2 separate regions of the Homo sapiens genome follow, and region 1 is linked to region 2. Evidence: fine-mapped expression QTL. A gene starts in region 2. The other region holds a variant in brackets. All regions are shown on one strand. Distances are between the middles of the regions.

Region 1 (3,000 bases), 29 kb before region 2:
GCAGACTCCATGGCGGGGGCCAACTGGCCAGAGTCTCATGGGCAGGGACTGGCACCGTGTCCTGATCGTGCTGACATGGTGTTGGGGCTCAGGGCCTGGAGGCTGTGCCAGGGCTGGGAGGTTTCTCTTTTCCACTGGCCCAGGCCAGCTCTGCTCCCCACCCACACACAGGTACTTCCTTGGGGACAGAACAGAGGGAACGAGGGCCTGCTCTCCAGGGCTGAGAGTCAGTGAGTGGAGACCCAGCAGGGTAGGGACCTGGAGTGTGGCCATGGAGCCCTGGCTCTGGCCTGGATGGCCCTGCCAAAGCCTGGCTCCATCTCTGAACGGACTATGTGGCCTTACAGTCTCTGAGCCTCAGTTTCCTCATCTGTAGAGTGGGCAAAATAGAATCTCCCCTGGGGGTTCTTGTCCTGATGTGCCAGCCCAGAGTAGGGGCTCAGACACAGGAAGTGATGAAAGTATGGGACAAGCTGCCAGCGGGGGACCCAGAGGGCGAGGGGGCGAGCTCTGCTCCAACCTGGGTGTGCAGCCTAGACCAGGTCCAGCTCCCACACTACTCACTGCCCCCGCCAGCCTGGAGGGAGGGCTCTGACCTGGGTGGGTCCTCTCTGAGCCTCAGTGTCTCCTCCTGTGAAGTGGGAATGGCCGGACACGCTGCCCTGCATGGCTGTCTTGGGCCTTGGCTGAACAGAGCACCTGCTGCAGGTGTGGCGGGGCAGGGGCAGGTGTGCTGCGGCATCTCTTTCTTTTCTGTTTCTGGCCCACCCTTCCGGGTGGGCAGACCCCCAGAGCCCCCACCCCTCCAGGTGGGCACACCTCCCAGAGCCCCGGCCTTTCAAGGCTTCGCTGAGCTCCTCCAGGGGAGGGGGCAGAGGGTGAAGGAGGATGTCCCTCATGCCCTCCCCGTAGGTATCACATCACAAAACAGCCGTCCTAGGCGGGGCTGCCGCTGGGTTGGGGGTTCTCCCTGGGAGGGGCCTGAGGCCTGGACTGCTGGGCAGGGCTGGGGATGTGCCTCTCCAGTCACTGCACCTGACTGATGCTTCTGCAGGCGAAACTACTAGCGGGGCCTAAACACTCCATGCGCCCTCCAGGCCCAACCCCAAGCTGTTCCTGCTCTCTCCCTTTCGGCTTATTCATGCCCATTTTTAGGACTTCCCCCTGGACTTGCCTCCTTAAGGAAGCCTTCTTCCTCCCTGGGCTGCCTCTCTCTGGTGCATCCTCCCAGGGCACCCTGCGCTTCCTCAATCCCAGGGTTCATCCCACGGCGCTGCTATGTGCTGCAGGCTTCCCTGTTGGACTCTGAGCATCTTGAGGC[G/A]GGGCTGTGGGTGGGGGCTGAGCTCCCATCTGTTCCACCAGCCCAGCACCCAGATTGGCCTGGCAGAGAGCAGCACCCGTCTTCCCCCTTGTCTGAATGAACGCCCTGAGCAAGCCTCATCAGGGCTGGCAAGGTGTGGCCTGGTTTCTCAACCTGGCATTCAGGGTGAATGCCACCTGGCCTGGCCCCCTCTGAAACCTGCCTACCCAGTGTCTTGGTACTGGTCTGGAATTGGCTTCCACCCCCAGCCCCATCGTCACTACCCATGAGTCCTCCCAGCCGAGCAAGGCTGACACCTCCTCCCGGAAGCCCGTCCTAATCACTCTGACCATTGTGTCCACACTTACATTCCTTCCCACCCTCTATCTCCCATCACCACTCTTTCTTTCTTTCTTTTTTTTTTTTGAGACGGAGTGCTGTGGCGAAATGTCGGCTCACTGCAACCTCCACTTCCTGGGTTCAAGTGAGTCTCATGCCTCAGCCTCTGGAGTAGCTGGGATTACAGGTGCCCGTGCCACACCTGGGTAATTTTTGTATTTTTGGTACAGATGGGGTTTCACCATGTTGGCCAAGGTAGTCTCAAACTCCTGGCCTCAAGTGGTTTGCCCACCTTGGCCTCCCAAACTACTGGGATTACAGGCGTGAGCTACTGCGCCCGGCCCCATCACCACTCTTGATAGCAATGGTCTTTGGTTTGCAGGCCAGCTCTACCACCCGCCACCTTCGAGGCCTCGGGCAAATCATTTCATCACTGGGAGCCTCAGTTCCCTCACCTGGGACTTTGGGAACCATATTTGTTGAATGAATGAATGAAATCAGGCAGGGTGGCTGGACTAAGTGAGAAATACTGCAGACACCCCCAACATGGGAGGCGTGCGATATAAGAGCACGGGAGGCTCCTGGTTTTGGCACCTGGATGGGGCCCTGTGTGGACCAGCCCGCTCACACGTGGGGAGAGGCCAGGGCCAACACGTGTGCTCAGTGCAGGACTTCTCAGAGCCTTTGTGAAACTCACGGTCCTGGGAACTTCCAAGGGGTGGGAGCGAGCATCGAGCATGGAAGCTATTTGACCCTGTCCCCTCCCTGGGGGTTCCTGCTCCATCCATCCCAATGGCCACACCACTAGTCCATGCCCAGAGCACTGATGGGGGCTGCTGCCTCCCTGCCCTCACCCACAGCTTGTTGAATTTCTGCTGGGCACCCGGCCATGGAAGGCCAGACCCCTGGGCTTGGGGTGCTGGCACCTGCCCAGAGGCCTCCAGCGGGGCACCAGGGTCATGCCGGCCTCCGTCCTTGGCCGGTGGGTGGGGAGGGCTATGTCCTCTCTTCCCTGGGCTCCTCTCAAACCCACCCCACCAACCTGGGAGTTCTCTCTTGGCTGCCCAGCAGCCTGTCTGCCTCTGTCCTGCCACATGTGAGACCAGGCAGCAGAGTGGCCCCGGCCCCAGGGCAGCAGATGGCCCAGGGTGGCTGTTGAGCCTGCCTGGGGGTCTGGCTCAGGACCCTGTGTGCTGTCTGTGGACGTGTGGAGGACGGGCCCAGCCTTTTCCCCACAGAGGGGCTCTGAGCACCTGCTAAGGGCGCTTTGCATCCACACAGCAATCCCAGGTTTTACAGATGAGGAACCGGAGGCCCAGAGGGGTGAGTGGTGTCCTCACGGTTACCCAGCATGGAGCTGG
Region 2 (2,500 bases):
AGCTTGCCCACCTGTCCAGGATTTGCACGCACCTGCTCGGTGCCAGATGCTGGGCACTGGGGACAAACCAGGTGAGGTGTGGACCGTGACCTGTGTTGTCACTGATTGGGGGACTTTCTGGCAGAGTGGAGAGTGCAGTGGGCTGAGAGACAGGATGGCCAGTGGAGACTGAGCTCTCAGAGGCGGCGGCAGCTGATGGGGACCATGCAATGGGAAGGATGGAGGCCCTGGGATAGTCTGCGGTGAACTTCCAGGCAGAAGGAACAGCAGGTGCAAAGGCCTTTAGCTGGGAAGGAAACTCTGGGTTGGAGGAATAGCTTGCAGGCGCTCTGAGAGAGGCTGGCAGCCAGGTGGCAGGGAGGCAGCCCAGTCAGGTGGTCTTGGGACAGTTTAGGGTCTCTGGCCTTCACCAGTGAGGTGGTGTCTGGAGACTTTTGCAGACGAAGGCAGCTCTCACTCCCATCTTCCCGGGGTCCCTCTGGCTGCTGAGGGTGGATGGGTGGAAAAGCATCTTTCAGGGAAGTGGAGGCAGGGCTGGAGCAGTTGAACATCTGACTGGGCCAAGGGTCCAGGGACTGGCATGGAACAGGGCTGGGTGGGTGAGGCCGCCTGGGAGACCCCAGCTTGCCTCTGTTTCCCCCTGTACTGGGGCCTCCTGCGTGAACCAGCACTGGTTTTTCCAGTAACTGGAGCCACAAGCCTCCCTAGGAACGGCTGACCCATAAGAGGACGTCCTCAAGGTCCCCAAGGGCTAGAGGCTGAGATGCCGCCTTCGCCTGGGCGGGCCTCGCAGCCTGGAGGCAGGCGGTGGTGCAGCTCGGGCAGGCCCCGTCCACACGCCTCCCCGCTCTTCTGAGCACCACGCGTCCCGTGGGCTCCCTACCCGTCCTGATAACACGGCGGTCCGGGGGCCTCGAAGCCGGTCTGACCCCAAGTACCCGGGCCAGGCGGCTGCCGTCTTGTCGCCCCAGCCCATCCCCTCAGCCAGCCCGCCTGGCGGCACGGGACCTAGCCCCAGTCGACTTAGGGGGAAACTGAGAACTCCAGAAGTTTCGTGAACTCCCTGGCTTCGTCCGCATCCCGCCCTCTGCCTCTTCGCTCGGGCTTCAAAACTGCCCCTCCGACGCCCGCCTGCCCCAGGCCGACCTGGCCTAGGCGCCCGGCAGGCACAGGAGCCAAGGTCAGTCCCCGAGGCCGCCCGCGCGACCGGAGCCGCCTCCTCCCAGCCCAGGGGCGGCCTCGGGGGCGGCGGGCGCGCGGCCGCGGCGTGGGGAGCGCTCCCATTGGGCCGTGCCCCCACGTGACCCAGCGGGTCCGGCGCGCGCCCTAAGCCGGTGGAGCCGCGGCCGCGCCTGTGCGCGAGGGCGCGCGCGTCCCGAGCCCTCCACCCGTCGTGCCGGCGCCGCCCGGACCGCCAGGTCAGTCTCCTCCGCGCCCGCTCGGGGCGGGGGCGCGCGGCGCTTTGTGGAGGCGCGTGGGGGGCCGTCCGCGCGCGAGCCCGCCGCCCGCTCCGGGCACGGCTTCGGGGCCGCGCAGCCGGGAGGGCCGCCGCCTTCCCCCTGCCCGCGCGTCCCGGGACCCTGCGCCTGGCGGCCGATCCGGCGGGAACGTGGGCCTGGAGGCTGCCACGTGCCGGGGCCGAGCCTCAGGAGGCCGCTGTTTCCCCAGGCGAGCCACAGAACACCCCTGGCTGGAAGGGGGTGACCCGCTCCCGTTTCTGGGTGCGCGGGAGACCTCCTACCCTGAGTTCATCCTGCGCAGGGTCCCGCCCAGGATCTGGCTCTGCCCCCATTCACGGCTCATTTTCCTCAGCTGCACAGTTTGGGGGGCTGGAACCCCACAGCCTTCCGTGCCTCCAGGGCGGGTCGTAGATGTCAGTGGAGGTCAGGGGAAAGCAGAGCGTCAGGTCTCAGGCCGGGTGGAGTCCGCCTCAGACCATACCAGTGTTGGGACTCGGGCGGCGCCTCAGCCCTCCAAGCACACCCCGGTAGAATCAGGTCAGCAGCCTTGATCCACGTGCCTCAGGGATTAAACGGGTGACTCCTGACACGCCCCTGGGCAGCTGGTGGCCCAGGGGTGGGGTGGTGGCATGCTTAGCTCCAAGTGGGCAGAGCAGTTTCACCCTGCCGGTTCCCGGAGGGAAGCCCTTTATGAGGGAGGCTTCCCTGGCCCTCTGTGATAGCGGCTCCAAGGGCAGCGTGAGGTCCAGGCTAGCTGGTCACAGTGTGTGCCCGGGCACCCTCAGCCAAGACAGAAAGGCACGTGCTGCACCCCCTCTCTCTGCCTGCGGGCTCTGGGGTGTGCCCCGCACACGATGGTGGGTGTTGGGCATCCACCTAGTCTGTGGACCCTGGGGGCCCTGCTCCCAGGTTGGAGCAGTGTCCTCGGCTGCAGACCAGAGGAGGTCACTGAACACAGGGTGCCTGTGGCCTTGCACAGACAGAAGCCGCCTGGCAGCCCTGTGCAGAGCCGTGCTTCACTGAGTTCCTGCAATCCTCCC

Evidence for each region. PIP is the estimated chance that this variant, and not a neighbour inherited with it, causes the effect.
Region 1: its variant is fine-mapped to the expression of PTP4A3 in whole blood (TOPMed, PIP above 0.99).

What each region holds. Positions count from the first base shown.
Region 1 is chr8:141,361,071-141,364,070 of GRCh38, forward strand. The region is part of intron 1 of GPR20 (G protein-coupled receptor 20); the gene reads right to left. Among named protein-coding and RNA genes, the nearest start is that of GPR20, 4.7 kb to the right of the region's middle. The variant G/A (reference allele first, on the strand shown) is at 1,322.
Region 2 is chr8:141,390,667-141,393,166 of GRCh38, forward strand. It overlaps PTP4A3 (protein tyrosine phosphatase 4A3), which reads left to right and starts at 1,355. Exons shown (of 6, transcript NM_032611.3): 1 at 1,355-1,418. ASTILCS (antisense transcript of PTP4A3, liver carcinoma survival associated) reads right to left here and starts at 1,955. Exons shown (of 2, transcript NR_187488.1): 1 at 1,742-1,955; 2 at 1-485. RefSeq lists an enhancer at 427-1,047.